4 linked regions of the Homo sapiens genome follow. The protein of the gene in region 4 purifies or fractionates together with the protein of the main gene of each other region. This does not show direct contact. Each region holds a gene or a part of one and is shown on either strand. Other genes may lie near its edges. The genes, in order: EDA, NETO2, TM2D3 and IL9R.

Evidence for each region.
Region 1: the proteins of IL9R (region 4) and EDA purify together in Homo sapiens (affinity purification with mass spectrometry; 3 studies listed by BioGRID and IntAct, with this or other methods). This does not show direct contact.
Region 2: the proteins of IL9R (region 4) and NETO2 purify together in Homo sapiens (affinity purification with mass spectrometry; 3 studies listed by BioGRID and IntAct, with this or other methods). This does not show direct contact.
Region 3: the proteins of IL9R (region 4) and TM2D3 purify together in Homo sapiens (affinity purification with mass spectrometry; 2 studies listed by BioGRID and IntAct, with this or other methods). This does not show direct contact.

The regions. Positions count from the first base shown.
Region 1 is NC_000023.11:69,955,095-69,962,120, forward strand, and holds part of EDA (ectodysplasin-A), read left to right. Parts: intron 1-1,932; coding exon 1,933-2,038; intron 2,039-7,026. UniProt on the Homo sapiens protein: Cytokine which is involved in epithelial-mesenchymal signaling during morphogenesis of ectodermal organs. Functions as a ligand activating the DEATH-domain containing receptors EDAR and EDA2R. May also play a role in cell adhesion.
Region 2 is NC_000016.10:47,077,946-47,084,971, reverse strand, and holds part of NETO2 (neuropilin and tolloid-like protein 2 isoform 1 precursor), read left to right. Parts: intron 1-1,170; coding exon 1,171-1,751; 3' UTR 1,752-7,026. UniProt on the Homo sapiens protein: Accessory subunit of neuronal kainate-sensitive glutamate receptors, GRIK2 and GRIK3.
Region 3 is NC_000015.10:101,649,366-101,656,313, reverse strand, and holds the start of TM2D3 (TM2 domain-containing protein 3 isoform a precursor), read left to right. Parts: upstream 1-3,932; 5' UTR 3,933-3,952; coding exon 3,953-4,043; intron 4,044-4,540; coding exon 4,541-4,618; intron 4,619-6,152; coding exon 6,153-6,310; intron 6,311-6,948. Other genes in the region: TARS3 (threonine--tRNA ligase 2, cytoplasmic), read left to right, coding at 1,584-1,732. UniProt on the Homo sapiens protein: Probable positive regulator of Notch signaling.
Region 4 is NC_000023.11:156,000,689-156,007,714, forward strand, and holds part of IL9R (interleukin-9 receptor isoform 1 precursor), read left to right. Parts: intron 1-641; exon of another isoform or gene 642-719; coding exon of another isoform or gene 720-820; exon of another isoform or gene 821-2,180; coding exon of another isoform or gene 2,181-2,217; coding exon 2,218-2,331; intron 2,332-2,760; coding exon 2,761-2,872; intron 2,873-2,988; coding exon 2,989-3,167; intron 3,168-3,731; coding exon 3,732-3,877; intron 3,878-4,589; coding exon 4,590-4,791; intron 4,792-5,116; exon of another isoform or gene 5,117-5,144; coding exon of another isoform or gene 5,145-5,329; intron 5,330-5,394; coding exon 5,395-5,500; intron 5,501-6,834; coding exon 6,835-6,919; intron 6,920-7,026.

The sequences.
Region 1 (7,026 bases), about 86 Mb from region 4:
AATGATTGAGATTTTATTGTAAACAGCAGTTTAGTTTTATACTATTATTAGTACTTAGCTTATTTATATTGTGAGTTAAGTAACTTTCTGTGGGCTTATCAGGAGAACTAGCCAAACTTTATTATGTTGATTGTATGAGAAAATGCATTTTTACATTCCAATCAAGTGACTCAAAAATACTACTCAGTTGAACCATGTGAAATTGTTGATTGATATTCAACCATTTTTGACAAAAATGGCAGTTTATTTTGAAATGCAGTCCTGTTGACAAGATGGAAATTACCTACACATTGATTTATTAATTTTATATTTAATACATTCATGTATCCTTCAAGATGCTAATCCTACACCTTAAGGATATTGGGTAAATCACAGAATTTTGAAGAAAATTTGTGTGGAATATTGGGGCTTTCTTGGGTCCAACCCATTTTTTTTCCACTTAATCAGAGATGGAGCAGACATGAGGACTCTGGAATTTTTTATTTTTTGAACTGATAATAGAATGAAAATGCAGATTCATTTGTTCTATTTTAGGCCCCAAATTAACCATTCTATTTTGAAGATTAAGTTTAATAATAATAGTAATAGCAAACATTTATTAAGTGCATGCTACATGCTAAGTACTGTTCTAACTCTGCAACTGTTTTATCTGCAAAGTACTATTATTATCCCTACTTACTGATGAGGAAACTAAAGTTTAAGTAACTTGTTCCAGGTTATACAGCTAGTAAGTGGCAGAGTTGGCATTAGAATCACTCAGTCCTACTACCGTGTTTACTGTTTACCTCAAGCACATGGTTTTACCACAGTAAAGCACTCATGCTAAAAGATTATGATTCAATTCAGCAAATATATATTTAAGCTATGATTATTAGTGAAGCCAGACCCATTCACATATGAAACATATTGTATTATTATCAGAGACCATTATAAGACAGTAGAGGACCAGGTACCAAAATTAGTCTTATAGACCACAAGTGCTATAGGAATCTCAGAAGAGGAGAAAATAATTGTGTACTTTGTCATGACTAACTCCCAGAAGAGCATTGACAAATAGTACCTCAGTATTGGATGCACAGCATTTTGGGAACAAACCAAAATTACATCATAAATAGCAATGTGGCAAAATCATGAATGTGTAATAATGAAGTCCAATGGGGAGCAGCAAATTCAAGGTTTTCTTTCTTTCTTTCTTTCTTTCTTTCTTTCTTTCTTTCTCTTTCTCTTTCTCTTTCTCTTTCTTTCTTCTTTTTTTTTTTTTTTTTTTACAGAGTTTTGCTCTTGTTGCCCAGGCTGGAGTGCAGTGGTGCGACCTCAGCTCACTGCAACCTCTGCCTCCCAGGTTCAGGCGATTCTCCTACCTCAGCCTCCCCAGTAGCTGGGATTATAGGCACCCCCCACCACCACACCCGGCTAATTTTGTATTTTTAGTAGAGATGGGGTTTCACCATGTTGGTCAGGCTGGTTTCGAACTCCTGACCTCAGGTGATCCGCCCACCTCGGCCTCCCAAAGTGCTGGGATTACAGGCGTGAGCCACTGCTCCCAGCCAAATTCAAGGTTTTCTGTTCAATTTTCTGTTCAACTCAAATTCTGAGTGAGCATCCTCAGTATGTGTGGGAAGTTAGAAATTTGTGGCTAGGCTCTCTGAATCCCAGAAATATATGAAGAAATGGGACCTGATGGATTATTTATTAGATATTCAGGGTGGAAGAAATGGGATTCAGAAATTAACCAAAATGTCATGCCTACATGATTGGAATAATAATGGTATCAAAAATAAAATGGTTTGTACAGTGGAGGGGAAGATGGGCTCAGGCTTTAGACACATCAAACTTAAGGTACAGGTAGACTGTCTATGGAAAGCTGGTTTTTTATGTTGGCTATGACTGAGTGGGGTCAACCTTTGACTAATGTACTTGTAATTTTTACAGATGGCCCTATTGAATTTCTTCTTCCCTGATGAAAAGCCATACTCTGAAGAAGAAAGTAGGCGTGTTCGCCGCAATAAAAGAAGCAAAAGCAATGAAGGAGCAGATGGTAAGTCTACTCAGTTGATCCTTTATCACTTCTGAATTATTTGTTAGTAAAAGTATCCTTTTAAGAACTACCTTCTTGGTAGGGCATGGTGGCTCACGCCTGTAATCCTAGCACTTTGGGAGGCCCACGCGGGCAGATCACTTGAGGTGAGGAATTCAAAACCAGCCTGGCCAACATGGTGAAACCCTGTCTCTACTAAAAATACAAAAAAAATTAGCCGGGCCTAGTCCCAGCTGCTTGGGAGACTAAGGCAGGAGAATCGCTTGAAACTGGGAGGTAGAGGTTGCAGTGAGCTGAGACTGTGCCACTGCACTCCAGCCTGGGTGACAGTGCGAGACTCCATCTCAAAAAAAAAAAAACAAAAAAAAAAAACCACTACCTTTTCAAGTGTGCTTCATCATCTTATATACTGTCCACCACAGACCCAAGGTCATAGACTATTTCTGCAGCCTAACCTACCAATCAGTCCTTTAACATAGAACTAACTATACAAGGATCCTCCCTCCTCCAACTCCAGATACCTTCAGTCCTTTCTCAGTATGTCTGAGAGCCATGATAGCATTTGTATCTCTCAAAATCACCCTCTATAAGGGCCTCATCTCTCCCGGAGATGTCCCACACCTATTAAGGTCAACAGGAGGATTTGGTTCTATTCTTGGAATTGACAGTGTTGTACCCTGCTAGCACTTACATGATGTGTTAATTCCAATGATAATTTTATCAATGTTGGTATCCACTACCATGCCCAAATCTGAACTAGACCTTCTAGAACTAGTTTATAAGTTTCTTGTGGGCAGAGATTTCATTTCTCTTTGTATAAGCCTAGAATCTAGCCTACTATCTGGAACATTGTTGGTGATTGTTATGTAAGTCGATGATGTTGACTGCCCCTTCAGCTAGGCAGTGATGTATCAATGGAAACCATCCCTGTTCTGGGTGTAATAGCTTTGAGTTAACTAGCAATGCATTCTGTGGGGCATAACAAAATGTTGAGCTAGCTCCTGGGCAGGGTCTTTGAATTGCTCTGATATTTCAGCATCACTCTGTCAATTGACATAATGCTACCCCTTTGGGCACAGGGGTTTGTAGAATACATAGCTCTGGGCTGCTGCAAAGGCATCTGGATTCAAAGACAGCATGTGTCTGGCTACATCTGCCAATAATATGTGTCTGGAGGGTTACAAAGCAATATGACTTTATACAGATGAAAATGAAAATTTTAAACTGACATTTGTTGATGTGAGTAAGGGCCACTGATGGAAGCAGTTTTAGAGGGCGGAAGCTATTAAAGAGATGGAGCCAGGACTTTGTCAGTAGGGGCAATAAGAAGTATAACTGGCTGAAATCTGAGAAAGAGCTCAGAACAAGGACCCCATAATAATACCAAAAAAAAAAAAAAAAAGAGCCAGAGCAGTAAGATAGGGTTTTCTAGTCAGTGGAGGTGGCAGCAGCATTGAGCCTTTGAATGGAGAACTGGACCAGTGGGGCCATTCTCTAGAGAAGTCATTTTGCATACAATTGATGACCAATTCAAGCCTAAGAAATGCAGTCCATGTAGTAAAAGTTACCCATTATTCACCTACTACTTGTAGCCAGTTTCCCAGAAGTCTTCTGGCTATGTGGAAGCAGGGAGCTAAGAAGCATGGACCCTTTCCTCTCCTAATCATCTCACCCTCTGATACATGTAAGTCTCTCCACCTTCAGCTTTTCCCCTGAGGCTACTCCCACAACCATCAAACTTTTCATAATCCCTGGTTGCAAAGGAAGAGAGGAGACAGGTGGTAAGAGCAATATCACCTTCTATAGTGGGCGTGGTCTTCCCTCCCTCTCTGAGTGGTAAGTCTAATGGCTTCTAAGGTTTACCTCTTCATCTAACCTCCGAAGTTTTCTCTTAAAGAAAATAATTTCCTCCTTTCCCTAAAACTACTTTATCCAAATTCAGCTACCAACGTCTCTGATACCGATCTTCCTTAGAATGTTTATTCTGTCCTAATACAAAACAGTTTTCTCTCTGGTCAAGGTCAAAGCCTCTCATTAATTTTTAGCACTTCTTATATACTTCCCTCCTGATCTGATACTCTAGTCAGTCACTAGACTCTAGTCTCTTGGTGCCAATGCCAAGTTTCTCATGCAGTCCAGGCATTTTTCTTTAATCAGTATAGCTTGGAGGAATCCAAGAGTCCCTTAGAGTTAGGAGTATAGAATGCCTGGGGGTCCTTGAATTTTATTAGATTTCCAACTTTTCACCTGGTGGTCTGTAGAACCATTTCTTTAGATGTGGCAGATGCTCCAATGAGTTAAAGAGTGGTAAGTCAATCCAAATCTCCTTTTCCTTTGAACCATTCTTGTTACTCTGATGAGCGTATACTATATTTATTCAATACACTCATCAAATATTTACTAAGTAAATACAGCAGTTTATATAGTACTTGAATAAACATTCAATAAGGATTTTTTTTAATATTCCCACTGCCTAGAAACAGACTTGGCACCTAGTAGACCCTCAATAAATATGTCCTGTTGCCCTCAAAGTGATTTACTTCCAGCATAAAGAGGCAGACAATAAATAAAGTTGGTTAAATTTGATAAGTGGTATGAAGAAAAATATAGCTGAGCAACAGGGAGAGAGAGTGATGGGGTATGCTGTAAGATGATCAAGGAAGGTACTCTGATAAGGGAACATTTGGGAAGAGACCTGAATGAAATGAAGTAAGAGCTATGCAAATGTCTGGGGAAAAAAGAAGCAGAAAATTCAAAGGCTCTGAAGCAGAAGAATGTTTGGTATGTTCCAGAAAGATCAGTGTGGCTGGGAGCAGAGTAAGAAGAGGAAGAGGGAAGGAGATGAGTTAAGAAAGCAAAATCCAATCTAGAGCCTTGTTGGCCAAGGTAAGGACTCTGGCTTTTATTCTGCATGAAATGGAGGACCACTGGAGGATTTTGAGCAGAGGAATGACAGGATCTGATGTATGTTTTAACAGCATTCCTCTGGCTGCTGTATTGAAAATAGGTGCAGGAAGAAAGGATACAAGCAGGAAGAATCTTTAGGAGAGTATTACAATAATCCAGGCAAGAGATGATGGTGGCTTAGACCAGGATGGAAGCAGTGTGGGTGGGGAGAAGTGGTCAGATTTTAGAGAGATTTTGAAGGAATGGCTGAAGGATTTTTCAGATTGATTAGATAAGGGATATGACAGACAGAGAAGAGGCATCAGTGACCCCAGGGTTTTGGACTTCAGGAACTAAACAGGTAGAATTGCCATTTCTGAGATGAGGAAGCAAAGGAGAGAAGCAGTGTAGAGGAATATGGGGAAAGAGTTTAGTTAGGCTTGTTAAATTTGAGGTAGCTATTAAACAGCCAAGTGGATATATAAGTCTACACTAAACATCACTGTGTATCATGAAAATAAGATGACTCTCTTTTGTACAAAGGACTTGTCATTGAAGAAGTGAGTCAGTCTGGAAACTGCTCTGAACAGAATAAGAGGTAGGATGGGATAGGTAAATCATAGTGGGGTGAGTTATGGCCAAAAAAAAAATCTTATCAGGTGTTGATTATAAATTCACAAATTACTTGATATGTTATAATAAAAATTTAACTATCTAAGCTCAGGTTTGCCTCACAAGTGTCAAAGAACAAGTCATTTACCTTGAAGAGTTAAGAACATGGCAGAAGTTCGTGACCAGCCTGGGCAACATGGTGAAACCCCGTCTCTACCAAAAATACAAAAAAAAAAAAAATAGCGGGGCACTGTGGCACACACCTGTAGTCCCAGCTACTCAGGAGGCTGAGGTAGGAGAATTGCTTGAGCCCAAGAGGCAGAGGTTGCAGTGAGCCAAGATCGTGCCACTGCACTTCAGCCTAGGCAACAGAGTGAAACTCCATCCAAAAAAAGAAAAAAAAAGAAAGAAAGAAAGAAAGAAAAAGAAAGTCTAGACCCTACTTCATTTGTTTGGTCATTCATCATTTAACAAATGTTTTTTACAGGTGCCCGCCACAACACCCAGCTAATTTTTGTATTTTTAGTAGAGACTGGGTTTCACTATGTTGGCCAGGCTGGTCTCGAACTGCTGACGTTGAGTGATCCGCCCACCTCAGCCTCCCAAAGTGCTGGGATTACAGGGGTAAGCCACTGCATCCAGCCTAGACTTTCTTTCTAGGAACTATAGATATTAAGCTTAATGATCTCCACAAATCCCTGTGAGAGAAAAAAATTTTTATAAACAGTTCATTAACTCTTGGAAACGGAAGGGATGTAGTGATCCTTAGGAGCTGCATAGGTTCACCAAGAACAAATCAGGCTGCAGAAGCCTATTTTCCTGTTTTCATCAGACTATTAAACTAGTTGATTAGAGGCATAGCATACACATAGTCTATCTTGCCTTTTAAAAAGAAAGTCAGTGGCAATATCCAGGGTATATACAATCTTTCTGACTCACCATTCAAGAATGACTAGGTTCATCTCAGTTTCTCCATTCAAATTACTTTATAAATGAAAGCATTGGCTAGCTAAGCAGGAGTCTCAAACACATGGTTAGTTTCAACTCTTAGAAAAGAAGTGAATTTCGTTTTCTTTACTACATTTCTTCCTTGAATTCACTGACTTGAGTTGGCCAGAAGTATTTCAGATCGTTTAAGTTTATTCGTACTAATTATGTGAGGCCTTTGGTTGTTGTTCTTCTTCAAAGAAAGTATGATACCTTCACTGTGGGTGTTGAGTCACAACAGTTCTAGAAATCTGTGCCAGGATTTCTTGCTGTGTCTTATCTTTGTGATGTGTTTCTGAAGTAATAATAGCTCCAGGTGGCTTGTTTGGTCATCTCTTGCACAGCACTCCAGAAATCCACAGAACTTTATTTTCTAGTTAGAATGAAATGTAGAATGTATTTGGGAGGTCATGAGGCCTTAGAATCAGGTAAAATGAATCCAGAATTCCCAAGGAGGTAGTTTCCATATTTCACAAATATTATTGTAAAAACATCTGTTCTCT
Region 2 (7,026 bases), on a different chromosome or scaffold from region 4:
GGTGGGGCAGGGGGGTTGGTTTCAGGATGATTTAAGCGCGTTACATTTATTGGGCACTTTATTATTATTACATTGTAATATATAATAAAATAATCATACAACTCACCATAATGCAGAATCAGTGGGAGCCCTGAGCTTGTTTTCCTTCAACTAGACAGTCCCATCTGGGGGTGATGAGAGACAGTGACAGATCATCAGGCATTAGATTCTCCTAAGGAGCTCACAGCCTATATCCCTCACATGCACTTGGGCTTCTGTCATACTGAATGGGAAAATAATAAGCTGCCTCACTTCTTGACTTTCATATGTTTTGTTTGTTTCTTTACACTGAAATACTTAATACTACTCTATTGGACTTCTGCCTCCAAGCCAGGAGTTTATTTCCTAACAGAAGTAAGCACACTAATAATAATCCATTATTGTTATCCATAATAGGGCTCCTGCTGCTGTGAGAATCTAATGCCACTGCTGATCTGACAGGAGGCAGTGCTGCGGGTAATGCGAGTGATGGGGAGCAGCAGCAGATACAGATGCAGCTTCACTCGCTCACTCGCAGCTCACCTCCTGCAGTGATACCCAGTTCCTGTCTGTGGCCCAGGGGTTGAGGACCCCTGCTGTAAGAGTTCAATAAATATCTTACTGTGGAAAGGTGATCTAATCTGATATGGCTGTCGTAAATACTCGACATGAAGTGTTTTCAGTTAATCATTCAAAAACAGTAGGTCATGATAATATACTGGATGGGTTAGTCTGATGATGTTAGTTTGCTCTCCCTGGGGTCATCAGTAGATGCGGGTATACCTGAACACAGCAGTTGGTCAAACCTACCATAAAGCAGAAAGCTAAACTTGATAGAACAAGAGTATTTATTTGGCATAGTCTATATTTGTATATTTGATTTGATTTGCAGAATGTATGCATTTATGTGTCTTCTGAAGAAACGGACCAAGAACTTTATCTTCTGTAATCTATCAGTACTGCGATTGGTAACTTTAACCAGAAATTATAATAGGGTTGTTTTATTTGTTTAAAAACCTAATTGTAAATTGCATTGTCTGTAGTATATTTGGCCCAAGTATTCTGTTTTACCTAAAAATACCTTACTAATTTGTACCAGGATTCATATTAATGTATTTTGAAAACTTAACGTTTCTCATTTTCTTTCTGCAGAAAAGAAAAAAGCAGGAGTATTTGAACAAATCACTAAGACTCATGGAACAATTATTGGCATTACTTCAGGGATTGTCTTGGTCCTTCTCATTATTTCTATTTTAGTACAAGTGAAACAGCCTCGAAAAAAGGTCATGGCTTGCAAAACCGCTTTTAATAAAACCGGGTTCCAAGAAGTGTTTGATCCTCCTCATTATGAACTGTTTTCACTAAGGGACAAAGAGATTTCTGCAGACCTGGCAGACTTGTCGGAAGAATTGGACAACTACCAGAAGATGCGGCGCTCCTCCACCGCCTCCCGCTGCATCCACGACCACCACTGTGGGTCGCAGGCCTCCAGCGTCAAACAAAGCAGGACCAACCTCAGTTCCATGGAACTTCCTTTCCGAAATGACTTTGCACAACCACAGCCAATGAAAACATTTAATAGCACCTTCAAGAAAAGTAGTTACACTTTCAAACAGGGACATGAGTGCCCTGAGCAGGCCCTGGAAGACCGAGTAATGGAGGAGATTCCCTGTGAAATTTATGTCAGGGGGCGAGAAGATTCTGCACAAGCATCCATATCCATTGACTTCTAATCTTCTGCTAATGGTGATGTGAATTCTTAGGGTGTGTACGTACGCAGCCTCCAGGGCACCATACTGTTTCCAGCAGCCAACCCTTTTCTCCCATCACAACTACGAAGACCTTGATTTACCGTTAACCTATTGTATGGTGATGTTTTTATTCTCTCAGGCAGTCTATATATGTTAAACCAATCAAGGAACTTACTCTATTCAGTGGAAACAATAATCATCTCTATTGCTTGGTGTCATTTATAGGAAGCACTGCCAGTTAAAGAGCATTAGAAGAGGTGGTTGGATGGAGCCAGGCTCAGGCTGCCTCTTCGTTTTAGCAACAAGAAGACTGCTCTTGACTGATAACAGCTCTGTCAATATTTTGATGCCACAATAAACTTGATTTTTCTTTACATTCCTTTTATTTTTCCTTTCTCTAAATTTAATTTGTTTTATAAGCCTATCGTTTTACCATTTCATTTTCTTACATAAGTACAAGTGGTTAATGTACCACATACTTCAGTATAGGCATTTGTTCTTGAGTGTGTCAAAATACAGCTAGTTACTGTGCCAATTAAGACCCAGTTGTATTTCACCCATCTGTTTCTTCTTGGCTAATCTCTGTACTTCTGCCTTTTAATTACTGGGCCCTTATTCCTTATTTTCTGTGAGAAATAATAGATGATATGATTTATTACCTTTCAATTATATTTTTCTCAGTTATACTAGAAAATTTCATAATCCTGGGATATATGTACCATTGTCAGCTATGACTAAAAATTTGAAAAAGATAAAAATTTCTAGCAAGCCTTTGAAGTTTACCAAGTATAGTCACATTCAGTGACAGCCCATTCATTCCAGTAAAGAATCATTTCATTCACTTTGGGAGAGGCCTATAATTACATTTATTTGCAATGTTTCTCTTCGCTAGATTGTTACATAGCTCCCATTCTGTTGGTTTTGCTTACAGCATATGGTAACCAAGGTTAGATGCCAGTTAAAATTCCTTAGAAATTGGATGAGCCTTGAGATTGCTTCTTAACTGGGACATGACATTTTTCTAGCTCTTATCAAGAATAACAACTTCCACTTTTTTTTAAACTGCACTTTTGACTTTTTTTATGGTATAAAAACAATAATTTATAAACATAAAAGCTCATTGTGTTTTTTAGACTTTTGATATTATTTGATACTGTACAAACTTTATTAAATCAAGATGAAAGACCTACAGGACAGATTCCTTTCAGTGTTCACATCAGTGGCTTTGTATGCAAATATGCTGTGTTGGACCTGGACGCTATAACTTATTGTAAAGACCTTGGAAATGTGGACATAAGCTCTTTCTTTCCTTTTGTTACTGTATTTAGTTTGTGATAAATTTTTCACTGTGTGATATTTATGCTCTAAATCACTACACAAATCCCATATTAAAATATACATTGTACCTGACCCTTTAATCATGTTATTTATGCCACCAAGGTTGTGGATCTTAAGGTATGTATGGAAAGGAACTCATTTATCAAATTGTAAGTAATACAGACATGCCATTTAAAAGAGGTAAATTCTTGTTTTCTATATTTTGTTAGTAAATTCTCAATGAAATAAGTTGAAGTTTCACTGGATTTCATTAACTTTTAAATATTACATATATGTGTTTTCTCAGATTAGTGAAAATTGTGACCTTAAATTTAATACACATATACTGCCTCAGAGTGCTTTCTTGTATCAAAATTTTTGTTTTTTAAAAAAGTAGATAATATTTAGGAGACAGAAAAACCTATACATAATGTATTCATGATTTAAATTTTTTTAAGTCAGCCTAGTTTCTTGTTTTAAAAATATAACGTGGAAACATGAAAAGACTTGATGCATATAATATTCAATGAACTAATACCAGAGACAGCTAAGTTTTTTCAGTAGTTATGCTGAATAAGCATTTTAGTAGGTAACTTACACCAGCTAACATTTGAACAGCATAATAAATACTTAATATAACAACAACTATGATCTTATGATGATAAAAGGGAAGTTAGCATATTTTCTATGTAAAATTATTCATTTTTTAAAATAGCTGTTAAACCTATATTTAATCTTTAGATTATAATAGCAAATAATACAGTATGCTAAACTATAGTCACTTGTAACTACATTTTTGTTTTTGAAATTTGATTTCTATTTATAAGGTCTTGAAGAGGCCTACAAAATACAGAGCCTTTAAAGAAGACATAACAGTAAAATAGAAGTACACAGTTTTATACGAGTCAATGTAGCAAGTAACATTTAGACAGTAAGTTTGGTTCTGAATTTTCTGGCTGCTAAAACACTTTTTGCTTTTCACAGTAAAAAAACTTATGTGCAGAGGCTAATTTCCTCTTGAACTACAGCATGAGGGTCTGTATATAGGAACATTTCTTCAGAATGTAAAAAAGATGCAAAATGGAGACAGAGGTTATAATGGTGCTTCTTAACCCAGTGAAGGCACAACTTAATGTCGTCTAGGAACATTGGTTTAGGGTCAGTCTGTATTTTCAGGGATAGAACTAAAGAACCAGATGATCAATAGCTAAGCCAGCCTTAGCCTGTCACATGTTATACACCTTCATTGAATCATAGATGGGCATTAGATCTCATTTATTTATTAAACTTCTCTATGCTTTTGGAAGAGGTAAGAATGGAACTAATAAATCTTAGGCATTATTGCCAGAATAATGCTAATTGCTGTATATACAGCCTTTAATCTTTGAGATCAGTGAGAAAACTTTATAAATTGCTTACTAAAATGAAAGCCATAAAATTTAATAACAGAAGACATGAAATTTAGCAATCTTGTGGAATTCATTACACAGTATTAACTGTCACGCAGGGTACCCCACACAGTGTCCCAGTGTTGAACACAAAATGCAAATCTGGAAGGGATAAATATCTTCAATTCAGAAACAGCATTAAGTATACCTGTATAATACTGTCACCATTATCTTCCATCTGCAATTCACCGCATCATCCCCCAAATGCCCACAGATCTATTGCAGGAAACCTACTAATCCCAACATCTAAAGCATGTAGGAATAAGATGTGATATTCCTTTTGTGTGTGGGGAGAGTGTCAATCTAAACGTTTAACAAAAGGCAAAGAATGTTCACATTTCACATCACAAAAGAGATTTCAAAGACTCCTTTAACCCGACAGCGCTTATGTCAGTGTCTTTGTCATGTTTCATAGAATTGTTAGACTTTAAAAGAACCTCCTGAAAGTCTGCCTCTGAACATTTGTATGGTTCTGCCAATGTCTGATGAGAAGAATGCTTCCCTGTTTGAGGAGTGTGTTCACTGATGAGAGGGGACGGGAGAAGCCTGGTTGTGATTTCAGGAATAATTCTCAAAGGAGATTATACTCTTATTGCAAAATGGGGTCTGCTATATATTGTTCATGTCACTTTATTGCAAGTGACATGAATTATATGACATTAAAAATAATATGCCTTGAATCACACTGATTAGACCCAGAAGGATCATTGAGTTTTTGGTGGTTTTAAAGATCCAAGAAAGACCTATCTAGCCCAAGTGTATGAATGAGAAGACTGAAGCCCACAGAAGTGAACTCAGCACCAGTGTCTCAAGAACCCCAGTACTCTGGTTTTTTTCTTTTTTGAGACGGAGTCTCGCTCTGTCGCCCAGGCTGGAGTGCAGTGGCGCGATCTCGGCTCACTGCAAGCTCCGCCTCCCGGGTTCACGCTATTCTCCTGCCTCAGTCTCCCAAGTAGCTGGGACTACAGGCGCCCGACACCATGCCCGGCTAATTTCTTGTATTTTTAGTAGAGACGGGGTTTCACCGTGTTAGCCAGGATAGTCTCAATCTCCTGACCTCGTGATCCACCCGCCTCGGCCTCCCAAAGTGCTGGGATTACAGGCGTGAGCCACCGCGCCTGGCCTTCTGTTTTTGTTTTTCTGTTTTTTTGTTTTTTGAGACAGAGTCTCGCTCTGTCACCCAGGCTAGAGTGCAGTGGCGTGATCTCGGCTCACTGCAAGCTCCGCCTCCCGGGTTCATGCCATTCTCCTGTCTCAGCCTCTCGAGTAGCTGGGACTACAGGCGCCCGCCACCATGCCCGGCTAATTTTTTGTATTTTTAGTAGAGACGGGGTTTCACCATGTTAGCCAGGATGGTCTCGATCTCCTGACCTCGTGATCCGCCCGCCTCGGCCTCCCAAAGTGCTGGGATTACAGGAGTGAGCCAAGGCGCCCAGCCCAGCTGTACGTTTTAAAAGTCAAGCACTTCTGTTTAGCAGCCCATGTAAGCTTGTCAATCATTCTGAATTGAAATGTAATTTATTCTGTAATTTCTTCAATGCATTATATTTCCCCTTTTCTTTAAATGTATGTAACATTGTGTTCTACAGTTTTGCTGCCATGATTCCTTGGCACCGTGAATTCTTACTAAGCAATGTTTGTTAACAGTATACAGGCTCGATACTAGGCAGGAAGAGCTCCTGTGTTCTTGCTTTTTTGATCTTTTTTAAATCTAAAGGAGACGTGTATTCTAGAAATTAAATATTTGTGTGCCATATCTCTTGAGTTTTGGAGAATGATTGGAGTTTGAGTTACTGTAAATAACAAGATTATCTTGGATATTTTAGTTTTCTGCAAAATCACTTATGTTTTATATACCTCTGCTAATAATTCAAAACTCTGAATTTGCTTTACTTTAACTTTTTAAAAATGTATTTTTGCAATTGGTTTAATGACTACCAAAGCCTAAAAAGCTAATGACTAGGGTGCATGTTTAGTATGCACTGTCTAGTGTAAGCTTTTTAAAAGCAGTAGATTTTTATTAGAGATGAACTTCCAGGCCATATGAGAATATGCTTAATCCTAGATTTGGCATTTTATAGAAAAGAATTTTGACTCTTGAACTAGAATTAAAAACTTGTTCTGATTTCCTTGCTTGCCTCAATTTCTAAAGTCTAGAAGTGGCAAATAATTTAGATCACTTATACCAACAGAATCTGTATTTCCTTCCGGGGCAAAGTTGGCATTTCCTATCCACTAGCTTCCAAAATACAATAATCCTAGTTATGATAAGGGCAACTTTATTTTATTACACTTAGAACCATTTTATGTTTTCAAATTCATTAATCTTCAAGTGAAGATGAACTAAAGAAAAAAATGCGTTTTGTCCCAGGTTGCCTGCAGGTTGCAGTCTGCTGCATCCGGTCACTGAAGAGGCAGTGAGGACTGTCACAGAGTGGGCTGGAGAGCCAAGCTGTTCTTTCGGGGTGCACAGTGCACCAGCCATAACACAG
Region 3 (6,948 bases), on a different chromosome or scaffold from region 4:
TCTATTGACAGTGTTTCAATGATAATGTTTGACACCAGAGTAGGTATTGTGCTGTTTCAGTCAGGCTTCTTATGGTGGCAGAAATCTCAACTTGGTTTAGACAAAGACAGCATTTGTTGGAAGGGTCTTGGAGTATCCCATGACATGAAAGGTAGAATTAAATAGCCAAACCACTAGAAGAGCAATCAGGAGCTCAACCCTCACCAGGAGTATTTCTCCCCATTTCTCGTTCCTGTCTTGCTCTGGTTCTTTATGCTTCTCTTGAATATCTACCTTATTCCACTTATCTGCAGACCGGTTTCTTCCTTCTGTGTGGCAAGAAGCATGGCTGTAGATTCCTGCATCATCTCACAATATGGGTCACTAGAGAGAACAAACTTTTTACCCACATTCCAGAAAGTTCTGGCTGGCTCGCATGGGTCTGGTGTCCACTCCTTGGCTCATCAGGTATGCCAGGTGGAGTCAGCGTGAGCCTGTAAGAGCTCCCCGCTCTCATCTGCACCCTAGTGCCAGGTGGGGTCAGTGTGAGCCTGTAAGAGCTCCCCACTCTCATCTGCACCCTAGTGCCAGGTGGGGTCAGTGTGAGCCTGTAAGAGCTCCCCGCTCTCATTTGCACCCTAGTGCCAGGTGGAGTCACTGTGAGTCTGTAAGAGCTCCCCGCTCTCATTTGCGCCCTAGTGCCAGGTGGAGTCACTGTGAGCCTGTAAGAGCTCCCCGCTCTCATTTGCGCCCTAGTGCCAGGTGGAGTCACTGTGAGTCTGTAAGAGCTCCCCGCTCTCATTTGCGCCCTAGTGCCAGGTGGGGTCAGTGTGAGCCTGTAAGAGCTCCCCGCTCTCATTTGCGCCCTAGTGCCAGGTGGAGTCACTGTGAGCCTGTAAGAGCTCCCCGCTCTCATTTGCGCCCTAGTGCCAGGTGGAGTCACTGTGAGCCTGTAAGAGCTCCCCCCTCTCATTTGCACCCTAGTGCCAGGTGGGGTCAGTGTGAGCCTGTAAGAGCTCCCCCCTCTCATCTGCGCCCTAGTGCCAGGTGGAGTCACTGTGAGCCTGTAAGAGCTCCCCCCTCTCATTTGCACCCTAGTGCCAGGTGGGGTCAGTGTGAGCCTGTAAGAGCTCCCCGCTCTCATTTGCGCCCTAGTGCCAGGTGGAGTCAGTGTGAGCCTGTAAGAGCTCCCCGCTCTCATTTGCACCCTAGTGCCAGGTGGGGTCAGTGTGAGCCTGTAAGAGCTCCCCGCTCTCATTTGCGCCCTAGTGCCAGGTGGGGTCACTGTGAGCCTGTAAGAGCTCCCCGCTCTCATTTGCGCCCTAGTGCCAGGTGCAGTCAGTGTGAGTCTGTAAGAGCTCCCCCCTCTCATCTGCACCCCAGGACCACAAGAGCTGTTCTCTCAGGTGGACAATAGAGAGATGGGATCAGAAGTCATTGCTTCCCTCAAGAAACTTAACTATCAGAGGATGAACCAAATGCTCATTAGATGATATTTAATATTAGTGAAGAAAAACTTGATAAAAACATGTCATGGGACTGCTGACTTAATGTTTGGTAAATTGCTGATTTAAAATACATTTCTTTACCTTTCTTTTCTGCAGTGGTTGGAGAAAAGGAAAAGATAGATAATGCTGTAAACGTGCGAACAAGAGACAACAAAATTCATGGAGAGATTTTAGTAACTTCTGCCATTGATAAACTGAAGAATCTCAGGAAGACACGGACACTCAATGCTGAGGAGGCCTTTTGAAGTCCTTCCCTGATATTTGCTTCTGTGTAACTTTGTTTTGACCCTTAAAAATGTATTTTTCTTAACATGTTAGTACTTCTACGACTTTGGAGCCACTGATGGGTCCACTCATGGCCTCAGCTGAGAAAGGAGACGATGAACGTGTAGCTGACATGCACGAAGTTTAATTTACTCATGTCCACGGGGGACGTTTAGAGGGCACGTGGGAAATTTTCCAGCAATCAATGCCTTGAGAAACTTAAATGGGGAAATATTATTCATCGAGAAAGTGAAACAAAACACTAGGAAATGATTATGAAATGTTAGTGATTTTCAAAAGATGGGCTTCAAATAAAAGTCTGCAGAGTTTTTTTTAAATAGGAGGGAAAATCTTATTTTCTAATATGTCTCAGGTATTTTTATGACTTCTACTAAAATTCACACTGAAACTTTATCTTCTAAACTGGAATCATTACTTAATTTTAACTAACCAACAACCACAAAAGCAGCAGCTACTGCTAAATATTGGATTACTGACAAAGGAATTCAGTTTTGTGGAATCTGGTGTTTGCACTATAGGTTAAGAGTTGCCATTTAAATGTTTCTTATTCATAATTAGGTTTTGTTCCGCTTTAGAAAAAAATAAATTCCCAAATGAATTGCATCAGTGTTTCCAGCGTTTCAGCTGTGGGCTTCTACCACCACTAAGCCGCTCACCTAGAGTTGTTACTTTTTTGATGGGATGACATTCCATGGATTTATGTACTGAAATGGATTTCAGATTTTAAAGAGAGGAATGCTCTACGTGCTCAGAACTGAATTAAAATGGCATTATGTCAATAGAGAATTCAGCTACCAAACAAGAAGTATTGTTTATTTTGCGATATGCTGTGAAATTCAAAAGAAATGTAAGAAATAATCTCTTTTCAATATACTGATCATTTAGTTAACTTCCTGAGGGATGTGAACAGTGAAACAGTTGGCAAACAAAACAATATATATCAGGCTTGTGTAGTAGTATAAGGTGCAGATTGTGTGATATGATTTTTATTATTTATTTTTTGAGACGGAGTCTCGCTCTGTCACCCAGGCTGGAGTGCAGTGGCGCGATCTCGGCTCACTACAACCTCCGCTTCCCGGGTTTAGGCGATTCTCCTGCCTCAGCTTCCCCAGTAGCTGGGACCACAGGCGCGTGCCTCCACGCCTGGCTAATTTTTTTGTATTTTTAGTAGAGACAGGGTTTCACCGTGTTGTTAGCCAGGATGGTTTCGATTTCCTAACCTCGTGATCCGCCCGCCTGGGCCTCCCAAAGTGCTGGGATTACAGACGTGATTCACCGCCCCCGGCCGTGATACGATTTTTAAAGCTAACATTCAGGGCTTATGTGCCGGCACTTTTCCATGTATTTTTTAAAAAGTCATTCAGCAAACATGCACGTGAGGGGGTGGTAGTCAGAAGACCGCGGAATGAACGATCCCGAAGCACGTGGGTGGGAGGAGAGCACCTGTCACCAGCGCTTTCTCCCAGGTGTGCTGTGACAGAAACCGGCAAGGGTCTCCGCAAGCTGGGGCCTGAGCGCGGCTCCCCAGACGGCCGCGACCTTCCCCAGGCAGGGCTGGGCTCTGGACCCTCCCCTCACTTCCCAGCGCCTCGGGCCATCCTGCTTCTCCAGGCCTGAGAGGAACTTTCTGGAAGTGCTGCGTATCTTCAAGAGGCCGGCCAGAAGTGAAAGCCGCGGCAGGCCTGAGCGCCGGCCCCAGGGGAGGGGTCCCTCGGGCCCTCGTCGTCCCGGGGCCGCTTCCCCGACTGTAAATAAGTGTCTTTAGGATGAAACGCCACGCGATAGTGTCCTCGGAACCTTCGCACGAGATCCAGCACACAACATCCGACCACACACTGGGGCGGCCAGCCTCCCGCGTTCGCCCGCCTCTGCTCTTGGTTGCTTCGGGCGCGCATTTCGGTCCACGGATGACCTTTAACAGGTCTCCTGCAGTGGAACCAGGGGTGAGGGCCTCGTCCAAGGGCGTGAGGGGCGCGTGGAAATGGAACAACCTCCCAGGCTCGCATCCTCCTCGGGGACCTCCCAGAAGGCTCAACCGGAAGAAAACCCGCGACCCGCGCGAGGACAGCGAAAGCGCAAACGCCGGCCGCCAGGAGTCGCAGCGCGCCTGCGTCCAGTTCACGCTCCGGCTCCCAGGCGCGCCCCGCCCCCCGGCCCGGAAGTGCGCAGGCGCTGGCAAGATGGCGGGAGGGGTGCTCCCGCTGAGGGGCCTCCGCGCCTTGTGTCGCGTGCTGCTCTTCCTCTCGCAGTTCTGCATTCTGTCGGGCGGTGGTGAGTCAAAGGCTGGGTTCAGCGCCGGGTGGGGCTGAGTGGCAGCAGGGCCCCGGGAGCTGCGAGGAGGCCGGGCCCACGGGCGGACGCTGACGCGGGGAGGAGGCCGAGTGCCGGGCTCCGGGCCGCTTGTCGCTGCATCTGGAGTCTGGCGCCCTGGCCGCCCGGCCCGAGGCCGCCCCTCCGCTCCGGCGACACCGAGCCCGCCATCGCGGCTGCGGAGCCCTGGCACGGAGATGGAGCGCTTGGGGGCTGGGCCGGGGAGGCGGAACTGGAGCGCGATGTCATCCTTCGGTCCCTCGTTGCCGGCTGACCTGAACTGATGTCTACTCTGTTGACGTTTCGTCCCTAAGCTTTGTGTTTTCTGGCTGACCAGCCGTGAGGTTTTCATGAGCAGCTTATTGGCCTGGTGTAGACCCGCCGTGTTAACCACACAAAATAAGGTTTTCTTGTCCCGGGATAACGTGTTTCTCTAATTGTACGATCCTTAAATTTAGAGCAATCGCAGGCGCTGGCTCAGTCAATAAAGGATCCGGGCCCAACACGCACATTCACAGTAGTTCCCAGGGCAGCAGGTACTAGACGTTTTCTATTCTAGTAAATACATGTAGTTATCTCTAGTAGTTTCTCTTTGTTTTTATAAAAATTCCCTTTAGTATACGAAGTCACTTTCCATTTTTGAATATTTATTGTATTTTAGATTATGTGAATTAAGGGTAGATACACAGCCATTTTCAGTAGATAGTCTTCGTATTTATACCTTTTGACGTTTCTGCCTCCTCTCTTTTTCCAATCCCACGCTCATTTGTCACCTTATTTCTATTATTTTTCCACTTCATCCATCAAAATAACCTTCAGTCCGTGCTTCTTTCCCTTCAGCAAATTTCCTCTACTGCTAAAACCCTGTTCCTGATGTTGGAATATTAAAGGCTCCCTCAGGACTGTGGAAATGGAAGGATTACAGCGGGACTGATGGAGACTTGAAATCTAGATCTGGTTTTGCTACTGGGATCTTGAACAAATTATTTATCCTCTTTGGACCTTGGTCCTCATCTTTAAAGCGGTGGGGTTGGTCTGACGACCTAAAGTCATTTCTGCTTTGTGATTCTAAGTGTCCACCTTCCAGCCACATAGTCACGGGATCAAAAAGAGTATTTTGTAGAATTGTTCCTTAATACAGTGAGTAAAGTAGGACCAGTTTTAAACAAGCATTAGTGTGTTTTGCTAGGTGGAGGCTCTGACTATAATTTCATCACTTTAAAGTGACATTACTTCAGTGAATTGAAACTGGCAGAGATATTTTACTGATTCTTATTTGGATGTAAAAAACAGCAGTGCACTTGAATTTTAAACTCAGATTACTTTTTAGAGAAAGCACAAGAGTTCTTAACTCTTGCAGGCTTTTGAAAGCCCTTCTTTTCAGGAATACTTGCAATTTTGATCCTTTCAGTTGGTAAAAATACATTGCACACTCATTAGGTTGGTTGGAAATAAGTTGCAGCTTACTGAAGATGTTATTAAAGTAGAGAACTGTTTTGAACTTTGGTAGCGTAAAACTGTAAATATTATATTAGCAAATGTGGCTTATCGAAGTACCAGTGTGAAATAATGACATTTTAAAGTTGATGCCCTGAGGATGTCAGTGGCTTCATTTCTGAATTAGTGAATTCAGATGAAAAGAACACGGGATTGGAAATGGAGAGATTTGGGTTCTAGTTCCAGTTTTGCCACAGACTTCCTCTGTGATTTTGCAAAACCCTACTGTAAGTTTTTTTTCAACTTACAAAATGATAGTCTTTTTTTTAAGCCCTTAATGTATACCCAGAATTTTCTATACATTATTTGTATATGAGCACCTTTAGTTTTCACGGCCACGTGGGAGGCAGGAATGAAGTAATGTTTTACAAGTGTGGTGCTCACCAGGTCCCACAGCTGGCCGTGGGCAGAATTCTGCTTTAATTGCAGGTGTCTCTGACTCCAGTCCCATGCTTCTTCCCTTCCAGTGCAGTGTCTACTTGCTAATGATCACGTCTCTTAACCTTAGAAGATTGTTCTCTGTTATTCGAATCAGTATTATAGGAGAATAAGCTTCTCTCTTGCCTCTCACAGAAAGTACTGAAATCCCACCTTATGTGATGAAGTGTCCGAGCAATGGTTTGTGTAGCAGGCTTCCTGCAGACTGTATAGACTGCACAACAAATTTCTCCTGTACCTATGGGAAGCCTGTCACTTTTGACTGTGCAGTGAAACCATCTGTTACCTGTGTTGTAAGTACTGCAGCTTACTTATTCTAAATAAATTCATTGTAAACTTTAAGTTAGAAGAACAATTCAGACTTGATTATTGGGAAGAAATTCTGAAGAATTTTTATATTCTTTTATGATTTCCCTTTTGAGTATGTAAGCAGAAATAAATTAAAAAACCCAATAGACCTTTCCATATCAGCTCACTACTGTTTTAGTTATAATGATAACTGTCAAGCCAGTTGATGTCTGCTGGAAATGCACTTGACAGAAATGTTGCTTTGTAGGACTGGAGAAGATCTCAGTCTACTAGCATATCTGAAGCAAGTCTAATTCGTTCAGATGGATTCTGTGTTCTCAATAGTGACAGCTAGTGTACAGAGGGGGTGGCAGTGTCTTTCTGCCATAGATGAGCTTTTGAAGGGCCAGTGCTTATCTGTGGTGAGAAGATGGATTCAGTAAATGCCGGAATGCCTGGTAGCTCTCTAGAACAAAATTAAGTGGAACGCCTGTCTTATCCAGAATAAATTCCAGATAGTCCAAAGATGTAATGTGAAAAATGAAACCCTGAAGTACCACAGAAAACACCAGATAGTTGCTGTTATAATCCCAAAATGGAGAATATTTTTCTAAGTATGAAATAAAGTTTAGAAGCCATAAAA
Region 4 (7,026 bases):
TAAGGGTGTATGCATCTGCCCTGACTGCCTGGCCCTGTGGTCAAGGATGGGGGAAGGCAGCTCTGCCTGCAGCTCCACCCCATTTATAAAGCACTGTGGTGCCTTCTGCTGGGGCATGTGCTGAGTGGTGCCTCGCAGGCACTGCCCTCGGGAAGTTCACAGGCTTATGTGGAAGCTGGTGGGAATGGGCCAAGAAGAGAGGTGTCAGGAGCCAGGTATTGGGCAGGTCCCAGGTCTCTGAGCCTCAGTTTCTTCATCTGTAGGAGGGTGGTGACCCTGCCCTGCTCAGCTTACCAGGTACAGATGTAAGTTTTCAGTGCAGAGGAAAAGCAGAGAACTTCCCCTCAGATGGCCATACCCCCTTGTCGCTGTACCCAACTCTCCGGTCCTACTTTGTAGCTCTCAGGTGTCACATGTGGATCCTGCCCTACCATCCCCCTTCCCTGTCTAGAAACGAGGCCTGCTGAGCTTGGAGCCATCCCACTCCCTGCTCTCAAGCCGTCTGCTCCTGGGTTAGCCTGTGGCTGGCCTGGCCTGATTCTACATAGATGTGGGTGTTTCTCCACTGCTGGGGCAGCAGTTGTCCATTCTGGGGCCTGGGTCAGCTCTCAGCTGTGGCCGTTGTGCCTGTGCTTCCCCAGGTCCTGGTGGTGACTCCAACCCTGCCCTCACATATCCCAAGAGCAGGCTGACTGCCTTCCCCATTCCCACCTTTCCAGTAACTGCTGCAAGAACGGACAGACACTGCTGCAGAGAACTTGCCACGGTGTTTCATGCTGTGGCTGGTGGTTCCAGGCTGCACGCTCCATTCTAGGAAAGGGTGAGGCTTCCTGATCATCAGTCTTAACAGGGGACTGTCCTATGGGTACCTGTATACGCTGCCGGGAGTGGGGCAGAGTGGGGTTAGAGTAGTGCCTGCTGCCCATTGGTTTGTGCGGTCCTTTAAGGCTGTAAGTCTGTGTGCGTGTCTGGTTTTTTCCTCCTCCTATCAGTAATCAGTCTTGTATAACCAGGCTGGCCCTGCTTCCTGCCTAGGGGCTATCGGTGTACCATCTGGAGTTGCAAATGGGGTGATAGGGCGTCAGCGGCCTTCCCACACCCAAGCACTTCCTGACACCCAGCCCCTCATCTCTAGCCAACCTCTGGCTCCCCTAGGGATCCTGGGGCTCAGGCCTCACGCTCCAGCATCCGGGGGCTTTGCCCTTCTGGTGTTGCTCTTCTTTGCAGGTGCCTTGGAACAGGGGTGCAACAGAGTTCAGAAAGTGCCATCTGTTGCATGGATACCCTGCTGCCACCCTCGTCCACCTTTCTGGGGCAGAACAGTTGGATGGGTCTTTATTTAAGAGGACAAAAGGGAGAGAGAATGCATAGAGGCTGGGTCTGGTGCTCACGCCTGTAATCCCAACACTTTGGGAGGCCAAGGCAGGTGGATCCCTTGAGGTCAGGAGGTCAAGACTAGCCTGGCCAACATGGTGAAACCCCGTCTCTACTAAAAATACAAAAAAAAAAAAATTAGCTGGGCATGGCGGGAGATGCCTGTAATCCCAGCTACTCGGGAGGCTGAGGCAGGATAATCACTTGAACCCAGGAGGCGGAGGTTGCAGTGAGCCAAGATCACACCACTGCACTCTAGCCTGGGTGACAGAGGGAGACTGTCTCAAAAAAAAAAATTTGCTTAGAATTTGTCTGTGTGACCCTGGGCAAGTCATTTCCCCTCCTTGGGACTCAGTTCCTTGCCTGTGAACGGGGACAGTGCTTCTCCCTTACAGAGCTGTTGTGAGAATTAAAGTAGAAAATGTACCTATGGTGGTTGTTGGTAGTGACCAGTTCCCCCAACCCTGACTCCCCTGCAGGATGGGGCCTGGGCCCGGGAATGGGGGATGGGCTGGCAGAGGATGACTGTCCCAGAGAGGAGTCTTCTCGGCAGATGTGGAGACCTAGCTGAGTCAGAGGCCAGGATCTAAGTTTGAGGGTGTTCCTTACACCCTGCAGCCATGAGTCTTTGGCTGAGTCAAATGGCCTTTCTGAGCTCAGTTCCTTATCAGTAAAGCCTGGACAGTGGTCCAGGACGCTGGACACTGTGTGAGTGTTAGGACACAGGACACTGTGTGAGTGCAGGTGGGGACCCATGGAGCACTCTGCTGGGGAGCAATTCATGGGGAGCACCCCTCCAGAGAGGGATGATTTGCACAGGGCCCTCAGCCCAGTCCCTTGCAGGCTGGACCTTGGAGAGTGAGGCCCTGAGGCGAGACATGGGCACCTGGCTCCTGGCCTGCATCTGCATCTGCACCTGTGTCTGCTTGGGAGTCTCTGTCACAGGGGAAGGACAAGGTGAGGGCTGGGCACTAATGTCTGTATGAGGTGGGTGGAGAACTAGGGCATGTTTGGGGGACTGGGTTGTCCGATGTCAAGCCTCTAGGGAAAGGTTTGGCCCAAACTGTGCTGGGGCATGTCCTCTAGGGGTCAGCCTGGACCTCAGTCTCTAGTCTCCCTACTTTTACCTCCCTACCTTCATTCCCTGGACCGACTGTAGTCTCCCTTCCTTCACTCTCTTGACGCCTCTCCAGATCTGACTTGCCCGTGTACCACAGGTCAGAGCCCATCACTTCCCAGGCCTCCCAGTGCTTCCCTGGACAGATTCTGGGATCATTTACTGGTGACTGCCCTGCTAGGGTGTCAGCTGTCAGATCCTCCCCAACCCCCGAGCTCAGCTCTGGCCTGAAGTACTTACCGTGGGCTCCTGATGGTCACTGTCTCCAGGGCCAAGGTCTAGAACCTTCACCTGCCTCACCAACAACATTCTCAGGATCGATTGCCACTGGTCTGCCCCAGAGCTGGGACAGGGCTCCAGCCCCTGGCTCCTCTTCACCAGGTGAGCATGGAGGGCCATGCCCACCTGGACAGGGATGAGGGTGAGTTCCCCAGGATTGAAGCAGCTATGCCAGGACAGTGTAGCAGCCCCGTGGTGCTGACAAATGCCCTTTCCAGCAACCAGGCTCCTGGCGGCACACATAAGTGCATCTTGCGGGGCAGTGAGTGCACCGTCGTGCTGCCACCTGAGGCAGTGCTCGTGCCATCTGACAATTTCACCATCACTTTCCACCACTGCATGTCTGGGAGGGAGCAGGTCAGCCTGGTGGACCCGGAGTACCTGCCCCGGAGACACGGTGAGCAGCAGCTATAGGTCTGGGGCGGGGCCGCTTGGCAAGAACATCCTGGCTGCTTGGGGGTTTGGAGCAGGGCCTTGCAGCCTGTGAGTGGCCCAGTGAGTGTTCTCAGTCCCAGCCGAGTGAGATCCAGGGCTGGGGGCAGGCTTGGCCCTTGGGAGGGGAGGGCCCATATGGTTACTGCAGGGGCAGGGTTTTGGCAGGAAATAAACATGCACGGCTGCTAGTTGGGGCAGGGGCTGGCACTTGAGTCATGTGAAATGCACTTCAGTCATACCAGGAAGGACTCCAATAAGATGCTGGGAAAAGCTTCCAGCAGCAGACTGTGAAGGAAAGGGAAAGCAAGATTTAGAAACCACCTAGTCTAGGTGCAGAGGCCAGAGGAAGTCATTGCTGTCCTGTCCCGCCTGGGGCTTTTGTGGACCAGTCTCCCAGTGAGGTGCCTGGTCTGAGAGGGCCTTGACCATTCCCCTTGGGAGTCTTTCAGACCCCAGTCTTGTGTGTTCTGACTGACACACCCAGACCCATGGGGCTTCAGCCTCACATGGATTCACTCTGTTCCAGTTAAGCTGGACCCGCCCTCTGACTTGCAGAGCAACATCAGTTCTGGCCACTGCATCCTGACCTGGAGCATCAGTCCTGCCTTGGAGCCAATGACCACACTTCTCAGCTATGAGCTGGCCTTCAAGAAGCAGGAAGAGGCCTGGGAGGTAACACTTTGGCTGGCTTTCCCTGGGGGCCTCTCTCCTGGGAACAGCAGTCCAGGGTAGACTCCCCACTCTACATAGGGAGATGTCAACTTGTAGTGATGAGAAGGGAGGAACTAGAGCGGGGTGTGTGTGCACACACACATGCTGGCATGCAGATGTGTATGCTTTATGTGTGTGTATGGGAGTAGGGTGAGTGCGCCTGTGTCTCTGTGTGTGCACATAAGTGTGGTGAGTGTGCATGTATGTGTTTATGTGTACACATATGTAACTGTGCACACTCATGTTTGTGTGCCCATGTTTGTGTGTTTATATGTAAGTGTACATATGTGTGTGCCTGTGCCTTGCATTTGTGTGAGTGTGCACATGGGCATGCCTATGTGTATGAGTGTGTATGTGAGTGTGGTGAGTTGCTTCTGTGCACACACTTTTGTTTATGAGTGTGCATGCAAGTGTGATGAGTGTGAAAGTGTTCCTGTAGACATGTTTGCCTGTGTGTGCATATGTGTATTTGTGGGCAAACGCAGCTGTGTCTGTGAGTGTGAGTGTGCCTTCTGTGTGTGTGTGTGCACGTGAATGTGGTGAGTGTGTCTGTGTGTTAACACAAGTGTGTTCAAGAGTGTGTTATATGAGCATATAATGCATGTGTGTATTCTCGAGGGCTGAGGGACCCAGCCCCACCTTCACCACCTGCTAACTGTCCCCACCCCCACAGCAGGCCCAGCACAGGGATCACATTGTCGGGGTGACCTGGCTTATACTTGAAGCCTTTGAGCTGGACCCTGGCTTTATCCATGAGGCCAGGCTGCGTGTCCAGATGGCCACACTGGAGGATGATGTGGTAGAGGAGGAGCGTTATACAGGCCAGTGGAGTGAGTGGAGCCAGCCTGTGTGCTTCCAGGCTCCCCAGAGACAAGGTGGGCACTGCTGTGGCTGCTGCACTTCCAGCGGAGTCTGGGCTGGGCGTCTTCTCCCCTGTTCACCTCAGCCCTGCACCCTTTCACCCTCCTGTAAGCCCCTCCCCGAGGCAGCCATGCCTCAGTTGACCCCCTTCCTCTGAAGGTCTGAGGTCTGTAGGGAGGACAGAAACACCTGCCAACTCTGGGGCTTCCTGGGAACCTGTAGTTAGTGGCTGCTGTTAGGAGTGAGGGTGGCAGGGCTGCACACCAGGGCTGGGCTCCTGCCTGGAGGCTGGACATGACCTCAGTGTCCTTAATGGGGGCTGGACTGACCCTTGCGCACTGCAGTGCTGAGATGGCCCAGGGACTTTATGACCCACCTTGTGGCAGATGGGAAGAGTGAGGCCCAGGAGTGTGGTTCACACAAGGTCCTTCAGCAGGTGACACAAACCTCCAAGGCCCATCACAAGGTCCTTCAGCAGGTGACACAAACCTCCAAGGCCCATCACAAACCTTCCACTTTGGCCCAGGGCACTAAAGGGCGCACCTTTGCCAGGTGGGTTTGGGGGGAGCCTCCTGGCACTGAGGCTGCTCACAGCCCTGGGCCCTTCCTGTCCACAGGCCCTCTGATCCCACCCTGGGGGTGGCCAGGCAACACCCTTGTTGCTGTGTCCATCTTTCTCCTGCTGACTGGCCCGACCTACCTCCTGTTCAAGCTGTCGCCCAGGTAGGTGGCTGATGTGTGCGTGTGTGTACATGTGTGAGCGGGCAAGAGTGTGCATGTTAGTGTATGTGTGCAGATGTGTGACTGTGTGCATGTGTGAGTGTGTGGTGGGTGGGCCATCAAGGGCCGCCCTTGTCTGGTTCCTCCCCTCCCCTCTCCACTGCCTGGTCCTGGACGGGGTGGGCTTTTCGAGTCTCCACCCTGGTCCAGAAGAGGGTTCTCAAGTTGCCAGGGGAGAGCAGGGAAGGGGGGTCTGAGGCAGAGGCTGAAGATAAGGGCAGCTTGGTCCCGACCAGACCCAGAGTCACCGAGATCAAGAGCCGGAGGTCCTAGTCTCCTGCCTCTGGAGGAGCTTGGTTTGTTCATTTGTTCACATGTTCTACGAAAGGACAGTTGGGGCATCTGGTGTGCTCAGGACCCTGTTCTCAGAACAAGATGGACAAGGGCCCTCCTTAAATAAACCGTCACGCCTCATGCACCACATGTCAGGTTACAAGACAGGGTGCAGGGGCCATGTCAGGCCGCAGATGTGAGGAAGAGGGTGTGGGGAGAGGGGTGTTGGGTGGGGCTAAGTGGGAGGGTGCTTCGCTTCTCCTTGGAGCAAAGGAAAGTGTAAAACTGTGTGACACAACCTAGTTTATGTTTTGAGGAATAGATTGCTGGGACAAGGGGACATGGGGGACCTGCTGGAGGCCAATGGGGGCCAGTGAGGTGCCCACAGGGAGACGATTTGGCATGAGCCAGTGAAAGAAGTGGAGATAGAGAAAAGTGGAGAGAATTGCAGGGTCTCATGAGGGGAAATAGAAGGGACATGTGGGTGGATGAGATATGAGTGGTGACCCCTGAGGTGGGGAAATGGGGGACAGCCTTGCAGGGAGGTTGGTGAAGTCTATTTGGACCTGTTGGGTTGGAGCCCCAGGTGACATCCTTGTGGGAGGGTCAGTGGATCCTTGGCAGCAAGTCTGGTGCTCAGGGAGACACTGGGTGGGGTGGGAGCCACAGACCTTCTGCTGATGGCAAAGACAGGGTTCCTGGAGTGCTGGCTCCCTCTGTGATCTGAGGACCCAGCTAGTAACTCCCCGTTCTGAACCCGCCATCGCAGCTCACGCTGTAAAGGACGCGCGCCTCAGTATAAATCAGTTCTATGCGGCCGTTAGGCAAGGAGGCCCAGTTGGGTCCTGCCCTGAGAGTGGGTTGGAATGTGATGAGATGGGAGAGAGGCAGTGGCAGGGACGAGGTGGGCGGACCTCCTGCTGATGGAAGGAAGCTCAGCCTCTGCAGTGACCTCAGGCCACCTGGGTCGCCATAGGCCTCTGACTGGCCTCTCTTGGCCTCAGGGTGAAGAGAATCTTCTACCAGAACGTGCCCTCTCCAGCGATGTTCTTCCAGCCCCTCTACAGTGTACACAATGGGAACTTCCAGGTGTGTGCAGAGACCACAGAAGGACATGGGGGGCAGGGGTTGCCCAGAGCTCTGGCCTGCCCAAGATGTTGGCTTTCACTGAGGGTTGGCGGCCAGTATGGGAGGCT